Homo sapiens: one gene and its partners. The protein of the gene in region 1 purifies or fractionates together with the protein of each later gene. This does not show direct contact. Each region holds a gene or a part of one and is shown in the gene's direction. Other genes may lie near its edges.

Region 1 (8,008 bases):
TCCCGCCTCCACCCTCTTCAGATCTAAGAGGAAAAATTGGTCATCTCCTGTCTTTGGGGCCCAGGGCTCGCACAAATGCCATCTCCTAGTCCCCAGCCACAGCGGTGATTCAGGCCATTTACTCAGATCCACGTTAATGAGTTTTTTCTGTCACCTAATTAGTTCACAGAGAACTCAGCCTTGAGAGGAAAGAAATAAGAACGGGTTGGGAAAAGGCAGAAGGAAGTCAGACTGGCATGTCACAACAAAAGATAGAACCCAGCACCACATGGGGTCCCCCCAGACCCAGTACTTCTTCCCCGGCTATGGGGACCTCTGAAAGCAGAAAGGGAGGTGTTCAGGTGCACTATCCCCCAGAACCTCAGGCAAGCAGATGAAGCTGGGAGTGGGGCCCTAACCTTAAGGCCCAAGTCAGGGACAGGCCCCTGCCCATAACTCCATGTTATCGCAAAAGGCCTTGGCTCTCACTGCATTTCCACTGAGGCCAAACCCACCACCTGCCGGTGGGCGTCCCCTTTCAAACAGAGCTGGGGGAGGAAGCAGATGGCCCAGGGTGAGGCCCATCTGTCCGTGCCCGCTCGAAGGTCACCATGCCACCGGGGTGCCTGCGGGTGCCTCCAGCACCCACCACACCAGGGCTTGCGAGGCATCTGCCAGCAGCGTGCCACCACTTCCTGTGCCCTCAGCGGTCGAAAGTCCAGGGCCTAAGGGCCCAGAGAAAAAAGCGCTAGGCAGCGCAGTGGCCGGGGGTTTCCGGTCCCCGACTCCGGGTGCGGTGTCCCTGGCGGTCGGTCAGCACCCGGCTGCCCAGCAGCTGCCTCCAGACCGAGGAGCCGCGGATCCCCGTCAGGCTCATGACCCGGCCAAAGCGCGGATGGACCTGCCGGCGCCTCCCACGCGGTCGCTGAGCCTCAGCCCAGCGCCAGGCCCGGCCCGCTCCCGCTTGGCCGCCGCGGCGTAGGGGGTGTGCGTCGGGAGAGGGCGCCGCGGCGAGCGCCACCCTCCGGGCCTGCGGGCGCTGGGCCCGGGAAGGCTGCCATCCACTAACGCGAGGCTCCGATCCCCCGCCCCACTGCGGAGCAGGGCCCGGGCAGCGGCTAAGAAGCCTCCCCGGTCACGACCCCACCTCCCCGCAGCTGAAGCCCTCTGCCGCGCCCACCTTCCCCGGCCAGGCCTGGACAGATCTGGTCCCGGCCCCCCCAAGCGACACCACCTTCGCGCCCTGGAACACAGTCAGCAGAAAACCCCCAACCCCAAAGTGTCCCCGAACGAGATATGGCGAAGCTGCCCGCCGGTTCTGCAACACAGATCGGCAAACCTCGTGGCCTGGTCCTCAAGCGCGCAAGGACCCCCGACAGGGAGAGCATGGCCAGGCACGGCCTGTGGAGCCCTCGGCCGGCGCCGGAGAGGCCACTGCGCCCCGGCTCCCGCAGCCCCCGGCTCCGCTCACCCTCGATGGAGATGACGTGCTCCCGGATCTGGTTCTGCAGCGCCAAATCCTCGATGCGCTCGATCAGGTCGTAGATGGCGTAGATATTGGGATGCACGGACTCGAAGCGCTGGATCTCGGCCCGGATGGCCGCGGAGTTGGAGAGCGCGAACTGCTGGGGGGGCCCGCCGGCCAGCTGCTGCGAGGGGCCGCCGCCGCCCCCGGCCCCGGGCCCCGCGCCGCCGAACTGCCCGCCGCAGACGAGCTGCTGCGCGGCAGCGCCGCCGCCCCCCGGAGCCGCCAGGCTCTGCTGCTGCTGCGGGCTCTGCCCCCCGCCCGCCTGGAAGTTCATGGCTTCGGAGCCGTGGGGCCCGAGGCGGGCCCGGGGCGGCGCGGCGGAGGCGGCGGCGGCGGCGGCGGCGGCAGCGGCGAGCGGGAGCGCGGGGCTGGCGGGGCCGGGACTACTGGGCTGGCGGCGCGGGGCTAGCGCATGGAGCCGGGGGCCGGGGGCCGGAGGCCGAGGCCAGGAGGCGCCGCCGCGCACGCTGTGGCCGCCGCTGCCGAGCGCTTCCCAGCGCCGTGATCCCGCTGCCTCGGAGCAGCCTCCAGCGGCAACAACAACGGGACCGGGAGCGCGCGGCCCAGGCCCTCCCCCCGCGTCATGCGCACGCACCGCCGCCCCCGCCGGCTCCGGCACACGCAGCCCGAGCCCCCCTCCCCGCCGCCCCCGCCCCTCCTGCGCGCCGGCCCGGGCGCCCCCGCCCCTCGCTCGCTCGCTGGCTCTGCAGCCTCCACCCCCGAGCCGCGCGCTCCAGCCCTGGCGCCCCGGCCCCTCCCACTCAGCCTCGGCCCTTCCGCCTCCTCACCAGCCCCCACCCGCATTGCCTCGAGGGCCACCCTCGCGGAGGGGACAGCTGCCCTGGTCTCCTCCCGCGCCCGGCTGTCGCTTTCGCCTCCCTGCGCTGATCTGGGCGGGGTGTCGGATCTCTAGGCAATGCCCAAACAGTGCCCTGCGCCTGAGGGTGCTGCTGACCGAGGCTGATTGGCCGAGGAGTCCGCCCAGGCCCAGCTGCTCCTCGCTTACAGCGTCCCGCCTTCAGTGCGGCATAGGCTCCCCTGTCCCCAGGCTCCGAGGTCAGCCCTAGAGACCACCCTGCTGCCGGAGTTTTCTCCCTGTCTCCCTGCCCAGGCTCTCCACTGCCGGCTGCAGCAGTGCTCTCCTAAAAGACCCTCCCCCTGCCGGACTTGGGAGATTAGCTAAATGCTACCCGACCCCATTGGTACATAGAGGAAGAAGAGGGAGGGATGAAATAGTATATGCCTTTCTCCCCTACTCATCCCATTGGAGAGACCAACCAAAGCCCACGTGGCTCTCAATTTTTCTTGTCCTCACCCCTTGTCCATCCTGTCCTTTCACTCCCTCTAGGGCCAGGGAGCTCCCTGAAATGTCCCAGTTCCTCTGCAGTCCCATTGCCAAAGTGGGCTGCAGTTCTGTTAGCCCCCTCCCCCCCACCAACACACACACGTTTCCTAAAACCTACAAGAGGTGACATTTGCAGAGGCCGCAGCCAATAAATCTGCCAGAGATGTTGCAGGGTATCTGCTACCCCCAGATATCCTAGGGCATCAGTGACACACATCGTCCTTCTTACGCACACTTCCACTTCCCTGGCCAAGCTGGATCTTTTCCCAGCATGAAGCTGTCCACTGTTTGATTACCCACACAACTCAGCCCCAGAACCAACCCAGTCACTATTCCCGAGTTCCTTGTACCTTCCAAAGCACCTGGTGCAAGCTAATCAACACACAGGGTCTCCTAAGCTCCTGAGGAACCTGTGTTTCTATCTCCCTGCATAAGCTTAAGGATATCTTGTGCCCTCTCTGGGTTTCATCTGCGAAATATAGTGGTTGAACATAAAACCTAGTTCTGATGTTGTATAATTCTAAAAGTAACATCCAACATCTCTTTTAGGTGCTTAATTAGAATTGACAGCAGGAAGTAGCACCAGGTATACCTCCCAAGAGAGACACTAAGAGCAAAGAGCTCCTCAAATGTGTTGCCCCAGCAACTAGCACACACGTGTTATAGCACTGTTGGGCTGTTCACACGTCTAGCTCTTCTACTAGTATATGGAGCCACATGAGGGCAGGAAGAGGGTCTGATTCACCATTTTATTCCCAGTATCTTGCACAATGCCTGGGATATAGTGTGTGTGTGTGTGTGTGTGTGTGTGTGTGTGTGTGTGTGTGTAATTTTTTTTGAGACGGAGTCTCACTCTGTCACCCAGGCTGGAGTGCAGTGACTCGATCTCAGCTCACTGCAACCTCCACCTCCCGCATTCAAATGATTCTCCTGCCTCAGCCTCCCGAGTAGCTGGGATTACAGGCGCCCGCCACCACGCCCAGCTAATTTTTGTATTTTTTTTTGTAGAGACAGGGTTTTACCATGTTGGCCAGGCTGGTCTCGAACTCAGTGATCCGCCTGCCTTGGCTCCCAAAGTGCCAGGATTACAGGCGTGAGCCACTGCGCCTGGCCATAGTACATCTTTTAAAAAATATGTTAGTAGAATAAATGAATGAACAGGAGGGATGGAACTAGAGGTAGGTTAGTTCTGTATGGTATCAATCTAGACTGACATTCCTAAGGCAATATTTGGGCCACTTGCTCCCACAGTAGGCAAGAACCATGGGAAGACTAGGATAGATTATTTTAAATCAAGACTGGCCTGTAAAAACCAGGATGTGAGATCTCTGTGGCTACAGGAGCCCAGAGGGAAAAATCCAGATATCCACAGGCCTGGGATTCAATGCCATCCACACAGTAACACACCAAAGACCCGACTCCTGAGACCAGGTTTGGGTGGAGGTGAGCGAATAGCTACTGTGTGACATGTACCTTAGTTTTTACACTTTTTAATAAAACATCTAATTTCTTCCTTATGATTGACTTACGAGGTGTGTTTTAGAGAGGAAGAAATTAATGTTCAGAGAGATTCAATAACCCACCCAAGGTCATATAGCTGAGAAGCACAAGATAAGGGATCAGGATTTCTGCCAGGTTCCAAGGTCTATGCTTCTTCCACAGCCCTGAAGGGGCTGTGGAGTCCCGAAGGTGGAGGAGGGGACCAAGGAAAGGGGCAGCCCTGAGGATGGGTATCCCTAGCCAGCCTGGTGGGGCAGCCCATGGATATTGGGCTCTGGGCTGAAGAATTAATTTTGGTGGCCAAAGTGCCTTCTGGCGTCCACTCTGACATAACAGTAGGGGCCACCTGAGTTCCTCAGAGCCTTCCACACTGCATCACGAACACGGGTACTCTGACGTGCTCCAGCTGACGTCGGTGTCTGGTGTGATAGATGCCCTGGCTGTTGGCAGGGGAGGGGGCGGACGCTGCTGCCGCCCAAACCTCTAGGGGGTAGCACAACCCCCAAAACCGCCCCCGCCAGCCCCTTCGCGATCTGCAGGCGCAGAGAACCGCGGGTGGAGCCCCACACGTGGGTCCGCAGGGCGGAGGGCGGGGACAGCGCGGCGCCGGACTACAAGTTCCACAATGCCCCGGGCCGCGGCGGCGGGGAAGGAGGGGTGCTTCAGGTGCCTGCGACCTCCGCGCCTCCCGCCCGGAAGTGCCCGAGGGGCCGCGATGGAGCTGGGGGAGCCGGGCGGTGAGTCCCCGCGCCGTGACCGCGCCCACCCCGCCGCCCAGGGCCCCGGTCGGGCCGGGATCGCCGTGCCCTCCTGCGGCTTCGGGGGGCGGGAAGGTGGGAGGGGTGATGAGAGGTGGGGGTGGGGAACGTGAAGTCTCGGATTCCGGGCGGGATCTGGGGTCAGGCAGCCCGGGGGGCTTGGAGAGACTTCCAGAGGAGGCGCGGAGTTAGTCCTCCGCGGAGTGGGGTTGAGGGGACCTGGAGGGGGCCGAGCTGGGTGGGTGGTGACGCTCGGTGGCTCCAGATTGCCCAGGGGCGGAGTTTGACGTTTGCTGTGGGGGAAGCCTGGGAAGCAGTCCTGTGCCGCGGGTGGGGTTTAGGTGAACCGTAACGCGGGGGGCGGGGGTGGGGGCACAGAGGCTCTACCCCCACCTCTTAGAAACTTTAGCAGCGGAGTAGATGAGCCTGGGGTGAAGTCGGTGAAGGAGTAGACACACTGGGGTGAAGTGGGCAGGAGAATAGATACGCTTGGGGGTGAAGTTTGGTTGGGGTGAAGTTTAGGAGAGGCGTTGCTTAGGCCCTTACCTTGGGATAGGGTTTGGGTGAGTTGGGAGCTGGTTGAAGACCTCGAGCTCAGATGACAGAAAGTTAGGACTTGGGATTCGGCGATGGGAAGGGGCACCCGGAGGCAAGTTTGGGGCGACTGGGAGGCAGAGAAGCCGGTACCCTGGGGTGGGTGAGGGGACGGAGGCTGAGGACGGTGGGAGCGTCGCGGTGGGGTGAGGGCAGGACCCTGTGGAGGTTCCAGGGCTCCTGGCCAGGGGGCCCGGGCCTCACGGGCTCTTTGTGCCTCTCCAGCTCGGTAGCGCGGCGGGCAAGGCAGGCGCCATGACCCTGATTGAAGGGGTGGGTGATGAGGTGACCGTCCTTTTCTCGGTGCTTGCCTGCCTTCTGGTGCTGGCCCTTGCCTGGGTCTCAACGCACACCGCTGAGGGCGGGGACCCACTGCCCCAGCCGTCAGGGACCCCAACGCCATCCCAGCCCAGCGCAGCCATGGCAGCTACCGACAGCATGAGAGGGGAGGCCCCAGGGGCAGAGACCCCCAGCCTGAGACACAGAGGTCAAGCTGCACAGCCAGAGCCCAGCACGGGGTTCACAGCAACACCGCCAGCCCCGGACTCCCCGCAGGAGCCCCTCGTGCTACGGCTGAAATTCCTCAATGATTCAGAGCAGGTGGCCAGGGCCTGGCCCCACGACACCATTGGCTCCTTGAAAAGGTAAGTAGGTCAAGAGGCAGGAGCAATGCTAAAGACAGGGGTTGGGAGAGTGGTCGCAGAAGGCCCCCAGAGACACCTAAGACCCAGCCCTCCTTTATACTGGAGGCGCTGAGCGCCCCAGATCACAACTGTACTTGTTCCCCTGGCAGACGGCCCCTCCCAGGCCAGGGCCGGTGTGTTGTGGAGGGCAGGGGGAGGGTGGGAGTGCTGTTCCGGGGCCAGGGACTAGGATTGCCTGAGGCCTGCTCTCTTACCCAGGTCCCTCTCTCCTCAGGACCCAGTTTCCCGGCCGGGAACAGCAGGTGCGACTCATCTACCAAGGGCAGCTGCTAGGCGACGACACCCAGACCCTGGGCAGCCTTCACCTCCCTCCCAACTGCGTTCTCCACTGCCACGTGTCCACGAGAGTCGGTCCCCCAAATCCCCCCTGCCCGCCGGGGTCCGAGCCCGGCCCCTCCGGGCTGGAAATCGGCAGCCTGCTGCTGCCCCTGCTGCTCCTGCTGTTGCTGCTGCTCTGGTACTGCCAGATCCAGTACCGGCCCTTCTTTCCCCTGACCGCCACTCTGGGCCTGGCCGGCTTCACCCTGCTCCTCAGTCTCCTGGCCTTTGCCATGTACCGCCCGTAGTGCCTCCGCGGGCGCTTGGCAGCGTCGCCGGCCCCTCCGGACCTTGCTCCCCGCGCCGCGGCGGGAGCTGCTGCCTGCCCAGGCCCGCCTCTCCGGCCTGCCTCTTCCCGCCGCCCTGGAGCCCAGCCCTGCGCCGCAGAGGACTCCCGGGACTGGCGGAGGCCCCGCCCTGCGACCGCCGGGGCTCGGGGCCACCTCCCGGGGCTGCTGACCCTCAGCCCGCACTGGGAGTGGGCTCCTCGGGGTCGGGCATCTGCTGTCGCTGCCTCGGCCCCGGGCAGAGCCGGGCCGCCCCGGGGGCCCGTCTTAGTGTTCTGCCGGAGGACCCAGCCGCCTCCAATCCCTGACAGCTCCTTGGGCTGAGTTGGGGACGCCAGGTCGGTGGGAGGCTGGTGAAGGGGAGCGGGGAGGGGCAGAGGAGTTCCCCGGAACCCGTGCAGATTAAAGTAACTGTGAAGTTTTCACTCTTGCAGTGTGTCTGAGTGTGTGCGGGCTGGCGGGCGGGGAGTCCTCGCCCCTTGGGAGAGAAGGGCACGGACTGCGCCTGGGGTCTGGCCCTCCGCCTTCCCTTCTCCCCAGCGTTCTGCTCTGGCTTTGGCGCCGGCCTCCGTGGCCCCGCCCTCGGCGCCGGGCGCGCACTTCCCGCGGGCGGGGCTCGCGGCTCCCTGGCTCGCAGTGCCTGCCGGGAGCCACGTCTCCGAAGACCGATAGCTGCTTCGGGATTGGCGTCCGGGCGGCTATCTAGGGGCTGCTGGGAAGATGGCGGACTCGGTGGCTAGCCGATGAGGAGGCCGCGGGGGGAACCCGGCCCCCGGGCCCCGAGACCGACTGAGGGAGCGACCTGCGCAGGGCCCGGGGAGTCATGTAGGGGTGGCGCCTGCGGGGAGGGCTGCGGGAGGGCAGCGGGAGCTGGTGTTAGCGGCAGCGGCCACGGTCTCCTGGCGTCCCTGGGCCGGGGTGGGTGTTGGGGCCCCCGACTTCGCCGACTCCGCGCCATCGCAAAGCGGTGCACTCGGGCTCCACGCGCGCCCTGC
Region 2 (5,594 bases), on another chromosome or scaffold:
TACAAAGAGGAAACAGTAAACACTACTAGGCCTTCTTCAAATCTGTTGCTGGGTTAAGATTTTCATATCCACCTATGTAATTGGATTATGCATCATTTGTGAAATGGTGCATGGCTTCTAAGGGGTCCATGTCTACATTTCCAGTTTTTTTTTTTTTTTTTTTTTTTTGAGACGGAGTCTCGCTCTGTCACCCAGGCTGGAGTGCAGTGGTGCGATCTCGGCTCACTGCAAGCTCCGCCTCCCGGGTTCACGCCATTCTCCTGCCTCAGCCTCCCGAGTAGCTGGGACTACAGGCGCCCACCACCACGCCTGGCTAATTTTTTGTATTTTTAGTAGAGGCGGGGTTTCGCTGTGTTAGCCAGGATGGTCTCGATCTCCTGACCTCATGATCCGCCCGCCTCTGCCTCCCAAAGTGCTGGGATTACAGGCGTGAGCCACCGCGCCCGGCCTCCAGTTTTTGAATAGCTGGCGCAGCTGAGATATGGATGCTGTGGGCTTGGGGGCATCTGTGGGTACAGCATATTCAGTCCCTGTCTTGATTTTCCACTGCTGCTTCTAGAGTTAGCATGAAGAGTTCTGGATTTTATATATATATATGTATATATAATGGAGGAAAGTATGTATTTCACAGGGAACCTTGCTGTGCAACATTTTTGGTCATTTGTGAAGAAATACAAAGTCCTTGAATAACAATTAGTTAACAGAAACCTCAGTGTAGCCCAGTAAGCTTGTCAGCTCCACTCTCCCTCTGTTCTAATCTCTGCCCTGCCCCGCTCAGGCTGGTATTAGTCAGGCATGCAGCTGCACAGAGCAGGGGTTGCGGTGGGCGGCTGTTTTCTTTCTAACATCTCGCCTCTTCACTCACCATTTTTTCTAACCTGCTCTAGGGTCAGGCTTAGAGGAGAGGGATAGAATAGGACAGTGAGACTCCAGCGTGTGTGTGCGTGTGTGTGTATGTACCTACATGTTGTGCCAACTACGTGTGTCTGTGTGTGTGTGTGTACATGTTATGCCAACTATCTCCCTGTCCCCATCTGGCCCCAGAAACTCCTCCTTTGACCCTGGGCTGGCTATTGATGACCACTCCCACCTTCATGGGGGTCCTGTTACCTCTCCAAGTGGTCCTTTTGGGCACAGTTGTTTTCAACAACCTTAGGTTGGTTCCCTCCTGCAGGAGCCCTATCCAAGCTCCAGGACACACACAGTGTTGTCTGGAGTCAGTGGAAGGTGAACGTGCTCCCGTCACAGCTCCCCTGGCCCTGTATTTTATTGGCTCCTGCCAGTTTCTTTCTGTAGATTTCTCAAGTGTATGCAGCCACCAGTTCCCCCGTCCTTTGACTCTCGGGGATACGAATGGTTCTCTTGAAGTTCCCTCTCGAGCTTAGCTGAAGGCAGGAAAAAGTGAGGGTAGGTCCAGCAGGAACTCTGAAGTAAAACAGCCTGCCTCTCAGCTGCACCCACCTCCATTCTGTCACAGCCTAGAAGCGGGCAATGGGCTGACCCTGGCCAGCGCAGGTCTGCATCTGGGAGCATGAGCAGCGCAGATGGTCAGGCACCTGCTAGGACCTGGGGGTGCCTGGGCATTGTCGTGGACTTTGGAGCTTCAACCAAAGCCAAGGAACCATATAATCCATCCTGTGTCTTTTCAAAAGATCCTTAGGGCTGGGCACAGTGGCTCATGCCTGTAGTCCCAGCACTTTGGGAGGCTGAGGTGGGTAGATTGCTTGAGTCCAGTAGTTTGAGACCAGCCTGGGCAACAAAGCAAAACCCTGTCTCTACAAAAAATACAAAAATTAGCCAGATGTGGTGGCACGAGCCTGTGGTCACAGCTACTTGGGAGGCTAAGTTGGGAGGATCCCCTGAGCCTGGGGAGGTTGAGGCTGTGGTGAGCAGAGATTGTGCCACTGCACTCCAGCCTGGGTGACAGAGTGAGACCCTGTCTGTAAATAAATAAATAAATAGATGCCTAGCAGTTTTCCTTTTTACCTCTGTTTTCAGAGTCAATTGAGGATATAAAATTTGTGCAGAAGATTGGATAAGACTGGTTTAAATGTTTGAGCAATTAGTAGAAGTGAACAGAAAATTCCCAGGATGTAAACTCACGGTTGTCGTGTTGGTAGCGTATTCTAAGAGTGCAGCTTGAAGGTGCTTACGTTTTTCATGCTGGTAATCATTTACTTACCCTCTGATGCCGAACATTCTGTGTGAGTCAGGTCCTGTTCTTAGTACTACTCAAGCCATAGGCAGCAGGCCTGCCCTCAGGGAAGCTGCTGCTCCATTATCCGTAGCTTGTGGTTCCTAGTTTCTGCCTCCCTGCTTGGCAGCAGCCTTCTCTTTGCGTCCAGAACAGCCGTGTCTGGGGTGCCCTGTAGGTGAGGAACCTGCTTAGGAGGGAGGCCTGTGCTCACAGCTGCCTCCTTGCTTCCTGCCCCGTGTCCAGACCGAGCGTGTGCCACTGGACCTCAGTCCTCGCCTGGAGGAGACGCTGGACTTCGGCGAGGTGGAAGTGGAGCCCAGTGAGGTGGAAGACTTCGAGGCTCGTGGGAGCCGCTTCTCCAAGTCTGCTGATGAGAGACAGCGCATGCTGGTGCAGCGTAAGGACGAACTCCTCCAGCAAGCTCGCAAGTGAGTCGCTTCTCCAGACCACCTGGCATAATCCAGATCAAAAACTAGTGGCTGAAGGCCGTTGTCAGGCCGTCTTCTCTTTTTAAACAGATGCCAACAGTGAAACGGCATTACATGCCACCCCAAAACTCAGATTTCAAGCCTCTCTTGAAAAAACCAGAGCATCTGGTAACACTGGGCCCCACTGGTCTACCTCTGATGCTGGTACTGTCAGTCATCTCCCATGGACCCCTTTGGCCACGCTTGCCGAGAGAGCACTTGTGTGCTAACCTGATCTAAGCCCTTTATATGAATTACTTTAACAGCTCTAAGAGGGAGCACTGTTAACCCATTCAGCTGACATACAGCTGAAGAAATGGAGGCTGGAGAGGTTAGCACTGGCCTGGCCCTGGCGTCTGTCTCCCAGGTCCTCCCTGTTGACCACTCTGCCTTTCAGCTGAGCATTGTACACACACTCAGCGCATCTGTGCGTCACACACCCATGGTTGGTGGCAGCTACAGCAGGTGTGTCCTGTGGATAGAGGGGGTTTTGTTCCAGCTCTTAAGGACAGGGCCAGCACTGTGTTCCTCAAGTGGGTTTGGGCCCTGGCAGACCCTGTGATTGTGGGAGTTCTGTGCTGTGTCTGTGGGTGGAGGGGATGGGCAGGAAGAGACAGCAGGGAACAGCACTGAAGGGTTCCTCCCTGGTGCAGAGAGAATTTGCGCCCATCTGTTGGGGGCTGGATGTCTTGGTCATTGGGTGGTGCTGAGTGACAGCTTCATGAAGGTGCCTGGACATGGGGAGATGTGAAATCAACCTTCTGGCTGTGTTCCACAGCTCCCCATCTCTCCTATGAGAGAGAAAAAGTCTTCTGTTTTTTCTAGACGTTTCTTGAACAAAAGTTCTGAAGATGATGCGGCCTCAGAGAGCTTCCTCCCCTCGGAAGGTGCGTCCTCTGACCCCGTGACCCTGCGTCGAAGGATGCTGGCTGCCGCCGCGGAACGGAGGCTTCAGAAGCAGCAGACCTCCTAGCGCTCCCTTGCCTTCCTCAGCTGCCTCCTGCGCCCTGTGCCCGACTGACTGGAGGAGGCCTGTCCCAATTCTGCCCGCTCCATGGAAAAGCGGGCTTGACTGCATTGCCGCTGTATAAAGCATGTGGTCTTATAGTGTTTGGACAGCTGATAAATTTAATCCTTCTTTGTAATACTTTCTATGTGACATTTCTCTTCCCCTTAGAAACACTGCAAATTTTAACTGTAGGTATGATCTCTTCTGGTGTTGACTGGACTGCTTGGGGTGGGGGACGATCAGGAGGAAGTGAGCAGTCGCCTGCCTGCAGCAGGCAGCTTCTACTCCTGCCTCATGCGTACGTCCCACAAATGCAGGTGTCCTGAGCACCACACCCAGTGGGAAGAGTGTGGGGGAGGCGCACAGTGTGAGCCCGCCCCCACGTCGTGGGGTAACATCTGTTATCAAACTGCTGTCGTTGTTGTGGAAGCATGTAGACTGTGCCAGAGGCCAGACCCACGGGCTCATGCACCCCTGAGCCAGCAGGGCATCTTGGAAAAGGAACTCTTGGTTCGATACCTGGAGCAGAGGAGGGGAAAGTCCAGGGCTATAGGGTGTGATGAAGTCACCCCTTTCTGTCCCACTACATCTGGGACTGACTTTCCGAGCCTCCAGTCCAAAGCCGGCTTGATTTCCGTGAACTCTGGTGCTCCTGCATCTCATGAGTGTGCCCCATGGGTCCCCTCCCCTCTCAGCATTTCCTTGTCCCGTCTGGACCTGGGGAGTGGTTAGGCAGCAAGCTTTGGTTTATGGTTTTCATTCATTGGTGAAGTAAATTAGGCAGTGCTAAAGCCTGTGGGTTTGGTCCTTGAACAAGATGTGGGCCTTGCAAGATGGGAGAGTAAACCTTGAAGGGCTTTATTAAAGAAATAAAAAAGAACTTTTGTATCTTTTATCCTGGGAGCACTGCGTTTTCCTAGCTGTGTTATTCCTGGTTTAATTCAGCAGAGAAGGTAAGGTGTGAACCTACCTGCCTTGGAGAGGGCCCAGGTCCCAAATCTCTTCAAATTCTTCACATGTTTAACTTTAAGGATTTGAACCATGAAGTCATAGGTTACAGACCTCAGTTTTATGCCCCATTGGATTACTTTTTTTTTTTTTTTTTTTTTTTTTTTTTTTACTCTTTGAAAGCTTTGTTTTGTGGTAGTCCTTTTGGGAAGAATCCAGTATTATCCACAATTATTGGCAAAGTTTAAATGTATTTTACATAACGGAAAGTTTTTAGAATGTTGAAAAGTAATTGAAAAAGGTGATAGGTAAATTTTTAGGCAAAGATAATTTATTTCAATAAATCTTTCAAAAGCCTTACCTTGAAATGCTGTTAGTAAATTTCTGTGATTTTTTTTTTTAATTTGTTTTGCTGAGAGCATAGCTATTTGTTTTTATTGTAAAACAATAATAATAATAAAAAGCAAACTCTATTGGTGTGTTGTGTGTGGCTGGAAGCTAAGGCATGTTTTTGTGTGGCTGGAAGCTAAGGCATCTTTTTCCAGAGGTGCCAACGTTAAACCCCATTTTGATTTGGATTTTGTGTATACTATTTTGGTTGGAGGGTTTTTTCCCATGTTTTTGAATTGGGAACTTTTGTTTTTCCTAGTAGTGTATTTGGGGAAGGCAGAACTACATTTTTCTTCCCCTTGTATTTATATCTTTTTTTTTTTCAGGTAAGTGTGTAGCGAAAGATTATTTTACTGTCCTCGAATTACATTATACTTCACACGTTGCACCCATTGTAGGTGCCACTAATTCCACATGTTCACAGGTTTCTGATGTGTGAAAAGAGAAAATTACTTGGATCAATTTTAGAGGGTCTTGACACATTACAAAACAGCCATATCACAGTGTTTAGAGCAGGAGCTTATTAAGTAGCTTAAAATGATGCAAGAAGTGAAGTTCTCAGTCCGCCCTTCCATTTTACACC
Region 3 (7,000 bases), on another chromosome or scaffold:
CCTGACTTTCCCCTGAGGGTCATTCATTCACCTCCACTTCTCCCCTAGAGTCTTTAAGGGAACTTGCCAGTGGAGATCTGCCATGATTTGGGGTTATTCTCCACTCAGTTTAGAATGACATTGCAAGATTAATGTTGGAGTCAGATGTTATGGCCAGGAAGATTGTGTATTTGGTTTGTGAAGCTAAACTGTGGTTCAGGAATTGGAAAAGGAACTATCCTTTGAGTTCAAAGTGTACTCAGCTAAAGATACTTGGTATGTGAGGTACAGAAGCCATGCCTGCATTTTCCACTGTCCTGGCCTACATAGTAGGTACACAGTAGATATGTGTTAACTAAATAAACGAGAGAAAGAAATTAAAAATGTGGGCCAGACACGGTGGCTCACACCTTTAATCCCAGCACTTTGGGAGGCCAAGGTGGGCGGATCACCTGAGGTCAGGAGTTTGAGACCAGCCTGACTAACACGGTGAAACCCCGTTTCTGCTAAAAATACAAAAAATTAGCTGGGCGTGGTGGCACACACCTATAATCCCAGCTACTCAGGAGGCTGAGACAGGAGAATCGCTTGAACCTGGGAGGTGGAGGTTGCAGTGAGCTGAGTGAGCTGCACTCCAGCTTGGGCAACAAGAACAAAACTTCGTCTCAAAAAAAAAAAAAAAAAAAAGTGGAGTTGAATACTTTTCTTTCAATTCTGTAGATATCATTTTTTTTTTGTATGTGGTGTTAGATTATAGAAAGGGCAATGAACTAGAAGTCAGGAGACTTTTTTTTTTAATCCTGATGCAGTTCATTTTATGTTTCTGAGCTTTGGTTTCCTCATTTGAAAATGGAGAGAGATTGGACAGCAGCTCTCTAAGCTGAAGGTAACCCTTTCTGTCAAGTAGCATCCCCATCCTTTCTATTACTTAAAGATGCTTTTAGAGTAGACCTGAACTTTTAAGCTGCTTCCTGCTAGGAGAGTTCTCAAGGATGAGGACAGCCTGAAGATTTTGTTAAACTGGATCTGGACTACCTGAGAGTCCACACATCCCTTGTGAGCCCGAGGAGACTATGAACCCACTGAAATTGAGTGTAAAATAGTGTGTAGTACATGTGTATGTGAATGCCCCCATCAATTTTTTGCACAGGGTGTCCTTAGCTTTTATTGGATTCCTTCAGATGTTGTAACCTCTCACAGGGTGATTTGTAGAGAAGCTGGGTCTGTGTGGTCTGAGCCCTGGGGATTTCACATATACTGAGATCTCAGGGGCAGAGGCTGGGGTCTTATCTCCATTGCGTTATTTATTTTCTGTGATTTTTACCCCAGTTTTTTTTTAATTTCCGATACCAGTAATCCCTACAGAACCTCAATGGGCATGCAGTGCTCCATAGTTTACTCCTGTTTTCTCATTCTGCTACTACCACTCCACCCATCAAGTGTTTCTGCTAATGAAAACATTTTTCTTCCTTTCCCCTTTTCTCCTTCTCCTTGATGACTGGTTGCCCTGGGGACTCTGGCAGTTGGCCGTGTTTACATCAGGTAAGATGCATTTCATTTTACTTTGTCTTTCATCAGCTCTGGTTGCACAAGAGAGCCCTAGTCTCAGGAGACTGCTTTCAGAAGCTGCAATCTGCCCTGCTTGTGGGCTCATTTGCTTACTTACCCCCACAGCCTTCTTTACATACCTGTCCACTGACAGACACTTGATGAAATCGGGATGGTCCTAATTCTGCCACAGAGGGCCTTTTTGGATCTCAGTTACTCATTTATAAATTGGATTGGATTGATAGTATGTTAGTTAGGTCCTTTTTATTTTTGAGATTCTGCTTCTATTAAAACAGTGCCTCCTATCATATCAACAGTCCCCCAGCCCTTAAAGGTTATGAAAATATTAGGAAGGGGAAAATTTTTTTGGTGTCAACAAAGAGCTTTTGTGAGGAGAGAAAAGTCTATTTTCCTAGCTTTAGCACCTACTTGGTGAGACAGAGCTGGGCCTGGCATTCACAAGTGGCTGTGAATAATCACAGCCTGCTGAAAGTCTCCCTGGTCGTCAGCAGTAGAGTACCACACTCGTAGGTGGCCTGGGAATGTGGGGGAGGACAGAAGTTCCAGACTGCTAAAGCTTCAGAATCTGGATGGGAGAAAGAAGGTGGGAACAGGGCTGCACATTCTGTCCCCAGCGGGACCTGGTAGTACATATTGACTATGAGTTTATGAAGAACACATAACACATTAAGTTTTGGAGCTATGAACAGTAAGAGTAGTAAATAAAATCATTCAGTGCTGCCATCTCCTCAGCCCTGAAGTCCTAGATTCATGTTTATAGAATGTCTATAAAAACACATTTTGGCCGGGTGTGGTGGCTCACACCTATAATTCCAGCACGTAGGGAGGCCAAGGCAGGTGGATCACTTGAGGCAAGGAGTTTGAGAACAGCCTGGCCAATATGGCAAAACCCCGTCTCTACAAAAAATATAAAAATTAGCTGGGCGTGGTGGTGCACGCCTATAGTCCGAGCTACTAGGGAGGCTGAGGCACGAGAATCGCTTGAATCTGGGAGGCAGAGGTTGCAGTGAGCTGAGATTGCACCACTGCACTCCAGCCTGGGTGACATAGTGAGACTCTGTTTCGAGAAAAAAAACCAAAAAACCGAAAAAAAAATCAAAAACAAGCAAAAAACAAACAAAAACAAACCAAAAACATTTTTTATCACTTGTTTTTTTAAGAAAATTAATTTTTTTTTTTTTTTGAGACAGTCTCATTCTGTCGCCCAGGCTAGAGTGCAATGGTGAGATCTCGGCTCACTGGAACCTCCGCCTCCCGGGTTCAAGCGATTCTTGTGCCTCAGCCTCCTGGGTAGCTGGGATTACAGGTGCACACCACCACACCCGGCTAGTTTTTTTGTCTTTTTAGTAGAGACAACGGAGTTTCACCATGTTCCCCACGCTGGTCTTGAACTGCTGACCTCAGGTGATCCACCCGCCTCAGCTTCCCAAAGTGCTGGGATTACAAGCGTGAGCCACCGCGCCTGGCCTAAACAAAAAATTTTAATGTAACCAGTGAAAGGGCCTGAGAAACCCAAAACGGGATTTTTTTTATATTGAAAGAAATAGGTGAATGCAAAAAATCAATGAAAGTACACAAAAAGCATTAAGCAAATTTAGATAATGAGCAAAACCTATCCTTTAGCATGTGGTAAGTCACCAGAAAATGATCAGCTTATCTCCTGATTCTGATGCCTGGGATACACAGTTGTTGGGAAAATGCTATAAAAATGAGAAATTGGCCGGGCGCGGTGGCTCATGCCTGTGATCCCAGCACTTTGGCAGACCAAGGGAGGAAGATCACGAGGTCAGGAGTTTGAGACCAGCCTGGCCAACATGGTGAAACCCTGTCTCTACTAAAAATACAAAAATTAGCTGGGCGCAGTGGTGGGCGCCTGTAATCCCAGCTACTTGGAAGGCTGAGACAGGAGAATTGCTTGAACCCAGGAGGCAGGGGTTGCAGTGACCTGAGATCATGCCACTACACTCCAGCCTGGGTGACAGAGCAAGACTCTGTCTGGGGAAAAAAAAATGAGAAATCACAGAAAGAAGAATATGACTGACAGGAAAATACAGTTGCTCCTACTGGGAAGGTGGGGATTTAAAGTTTGCTGTACTTACACCAGCAGCCTAAATTGAGGCTGGGCATGTCAGACTTGACAGCCCCAGACTTGCAGTTTCCCTCCCCCTGTGTTGCTAGGAGGCCCTAGAGAGAAACAAAGCATGAAGAAGCCTAATTGTGATGATTTTTTTTCTTTTTTTTGAGACAGAGTCTTGCTCTGTTGCCCAGGCTGGAATGCAGTGGTGCAATCTCGGCTCACTGCAACCTCCGCCTCCCGGGTTCAAGCGATTCTCCTCCCTCAGCCTCCCGAGTAGCTGGAACTACAGGCATGCGCCACCATGTCTGGCTAATTTTTGTATTTTTAGTAGAGACGGGGTTTCACCTTGTTGGCCAGGCTTCTCTTGAACTCCTGACCTCAGGTGATCCACCCACCTCCGCCTCCCAAAGCGCTGGGATTACAGGCATGAGCACCGCACCCGGCCAATTATGATGATATTTAAAGGCAATTTTGATTTTACCACTGGTAGGTATTTGCTGAATGGTAGGAGAAGGAATGGGAGTCAGGTTCCTTGAGATGTTCCCTGCTCATGCTGGTGTTTCCCAGTTTGAGGCCTCTGGCCTGTGTTGTTCTGGTGGCTCTGGCTGATCACTCTGGTGGGTCTTGGGCCATCCACATGCATTTTTCTCTCCTGTTTGCAGTGGTTGGAGACCAGACCTAACAGACAGGTGTGTCCTGTTTGCAAAGCTGGCATCAGCCGAGACAAGGTCATCCCCCTCTATGGAAGGGGCAGCACTGGGCAACAGGACCCCAGGTGAGGACTCAGGATGCCTCTCCCAACCACTTCTCCCCTTGGATGTGAATTCACTCCCATTCAGCATCCCCTAACCCCACCCTTTACTTAGTACTAGATGATCTCTTGGTTTCGAAGCAGTCTCATCCAGATGAGAGTCAGCTAGGAGGGGAGGGAAGAGAGGGGATCCAAGTTGCCACTTGCTAGGACCCAGCAGTGAACAGACATCACAATCACAAGTGTGCAGAGCCCTGTGAAAGAGCATTTCTGCAACCTGGGAAGCAGGATATGTAGCAGGAGAGGCTCCAGGGAGCAGGGTTGCTGCATCAGTGATGTATAAAGCATGGCGGGAGGGGAAACAGGATCTGGGTGACTTTGTGGAGTTTGGGATTTCTAGAAATGGAGATGTGCATGGGTCCAGCATTCAACAAACACAAGTATTGAGAGCCCTTCATGGTCTGGCATCCCCAAGCTCTCCAGAAGAATCTCTTACCTTTATCCAGCTACCCTAGCATATGCTGTGTACCCGACATATTAGACTTTCTCTTAAAGGGACTTGCTCTTTCACATTTATCAGCCTGTGTATTTGCTCTCTCTTCTGCCTTCTTCCCTCCCCAGTCCTGCTCAAGCTACCCCTCTACCCCCACCTGCTCCTCTAACTTCTACTCATCTCTTATGAGCAGCCCTAAAGTTCCCTCTTCCTTGAAGTGGTCTGTCTTCTTCACATTAGTTGCTCTCACCCAGTTCCCACCACAGTGTCATATGACTGGCTTTATCCCCCTTGAAACCATGAACACTTCAAGGGTTGGGTCTGTCATCAGTATTACAGCATCCTGCATAATGCTTATTGTATAACTAAGCCCTCAATTGAGTATTCATGGGTTGAGTGATTTGAGGGGGTGAGACTCAAAAATAATAGCATTGGGTATTTGCCCAAGAATAGTAGGAGATAGAGCTGAAGTTAATAGGGGAAGGTCAGAGAAACCATGAACCTCAGCCCTTACTGCTGACAACCCACCCTCTGTTCCAGTATGGATTTGGGATTTCTGTTATCTGTAACAGGCCCAGGGAAGGCATCTGGCCATGATTCCTAACCGATCTGAGTCAGGATCTCTGTAAGAGGAGTAGGCTGTAGTGCAATCTGGTGAATATCTCATAACGAGTTGATTTTCTCCCTGGTTCTCTATACACGTGGGAAGAACAGTTGCAGGTAGAATGAAGAGTTCGTATTTGGAGAATTAATCTGGCATAAGTTCATGTCCTGGACAAGAAAGAGGCTATGGCCCTGACCCTGTTGGTAAAGAGCTCCAGGTCCTCACAGGGAGCAACTCAAAGCAATTTGTAATAGACTTATTTTACACCATTTCTGTTTCAGAGAGAAGACCCCTCCTCGTCCTCAAGGACAGAGGCCAGAGCCGGAGAATAGAGGGGTGAGGAACATTCTAGGAGAAGCTTCTACAAATGAGCTGATGGCTTTAGAAGTTTCCTTCTTAGCCTTACAATTTTTCTCCTTGATTATAAAAGTAAAGGAAAACTTGTAAAATACAGAAAGGAAAAGAGGGGGAAAAAAATCACTTATAACCACACCAATCCAGAGGTAACCACTGGAAACATTTTGGTTCTATTTTCTTTTCCATTTTTCTATAATTATATATACACACAAATTTTACAAATCTGTGCGTGTATTTTACAGATGTGTGTATACTTTTTACAGTTTTTGTTTTTTGTTTTTTACAATATGTGGCTCCTGTTTTGTAACCCTCTCTTAAAATTTCATTTGTTCTACAGATACTTAGTACCTTCTTTGTGTGAGTGGGAGTCTTTTAGTATTATCTTGAGATTTTACATTGCCAGCAATATTTTACTAACTAGCTGTTTAGCATTTAGTTGTGTGGATTTAACATAATTCAATCCTTTGTTAGACATTAGCGGCTTTCTTTTTCCAAGTTAAAAAAAATCCTGATGAACTTACAGATAAATTTGTGAGCATGTTCATTATTATTTTATTAGGATAAGACAGGGTCTCACTCTGTAGCCCAGGCTGGAGTGCAGTGGTGTGATCACAGTTCACTGTAGCCTCGACCTCCTGGGCTCAGTCTACCTCAGCCTCCCATGTAGCTGGGACCACAGGTGCACGGCACCATGCCCAGCTAGTTTTTTGAGTTTTTTTTTGTCTTTCTTTTTTTTGTTTTGTTTTGTTTGGGTAGAAACAAGGTCTCACTATGTTGCCCAGGCTGGTCTCTAACTCCTGGGCTCAAGCAATCCTCCCACCTCAGCCTCCCAAAGTGTTAGGATTACAGGCGTGAACCACTGTACCTGGCTTAGGATAAATTCTTAGAAGTAAGATTACTGGCTAAAAAAAAATTGCACATTTGTCTCTAGTGGTCTAGTGGCTAGGAACAAAAACATTTACATTTTTTGCATATTTACATCAAATGTTACTCTTAAAAAAATTCTGTTAAAATGTTAAAGAAATTTTAAAAGCAAAATATTTACCCACCATTGCCAAGAGCCCAGAACAAGTATATTCTCATATCCTCATGTTCTCTTCATCTGTAGGCTGTGCATATGTATTTTTATGTAGCCATCACCATTCTGTTTGCTTTAAAATTTAATTTTGG

The links.
Region 2: the proteins of TMUB1 (region 1) and AMFR purify together in Homo sapiens (affinity purification with mass spectrometry; 3 studies listed by BioGRID and IntAct, with this or other methods). This does not show direct contact.
Region 3: the proteins of TMUB1 (region 1) and RNF185 purify together in Homo sapiens (affinity purification with mass spectrometry; 5 studies listed by BioGRID and IntAct, with this or other methods). This does not show direct contact.

The regions. Positions count from the first base shown.
Region 1 is NC_000007.14:151,080,515-151,088,522, reverse strand, and holds TMUB1 (transmembrane and ubiquitin-like domain-containing protein 1), read left to right. Parts: upstream 1-5,029; 5' UTR 5,030-5,089; intron 5,090-5,503; exon of another isoform or gene 5,504-5,759; intron 5,760-5,929; 5' UTR 5,930-5,959; coding exon 5,960-6,348; intron 6,349-6,622; coding exon 6,623-6,974; 3' UTR 6,975-7,438; downstream 7,439-8,008. Other genes in the region: FASTK (fas-activated serine/threonine kinase), read left to right, coding at 7,757-7,838. UniProt on the Homo sapiens protein: Involved in sterol-regulated ubiquitination and degradation of HMG-CoA reductase HMGCR. Involved in positive regulation of AMPA-selective glutamate receptor GRIA2 recycling to the cell surface.
Region 2 is NC_000016.10:56,360,952-56,366,545, reverse strand, and holds the end of AMFR (E3 ubiquitin-protein ligase AMFR), read left to right. Parts: intron 1-2,440; coding exon 2,441-2,625; intron 2,626-3,489; coding exon 3,490-3,637; 3' UTR 3,638-5,094; downstream 5,095-5,594. UniProt on the Homo sapiens protein: E3 ubiquitin-protein ligase that mediates the polyubiquitination of lysine and cysteine residues on target proteins, such as CD3D, CYP3A4, CFTR, INSIG1, SOAT2/ACAT2 and APOB for proteasomal degradation.
Region 3 is NC_000022.11:31,191,182-31,198,181, forward strand, and holds part of RNF185 (E3 ubiquitin-protein ligase RNF185), read left to right. Parts: intron 1-1,502; coding exon 1,503-1,521; intron 1,522-4,287; coding exon 4,288-4,400; intron 4,401-5,754; coding exon 5,755-5,809; exon of another isoform or gene 5,810-5,976; intron 5,977-7,000. UniProt on the Homo sapiens protein: E3 ubiquitin-protein ligase that regulates selective mitochondrial autophagy by mediating 'Lys-63'-linked polyubiquitination of BNIP1.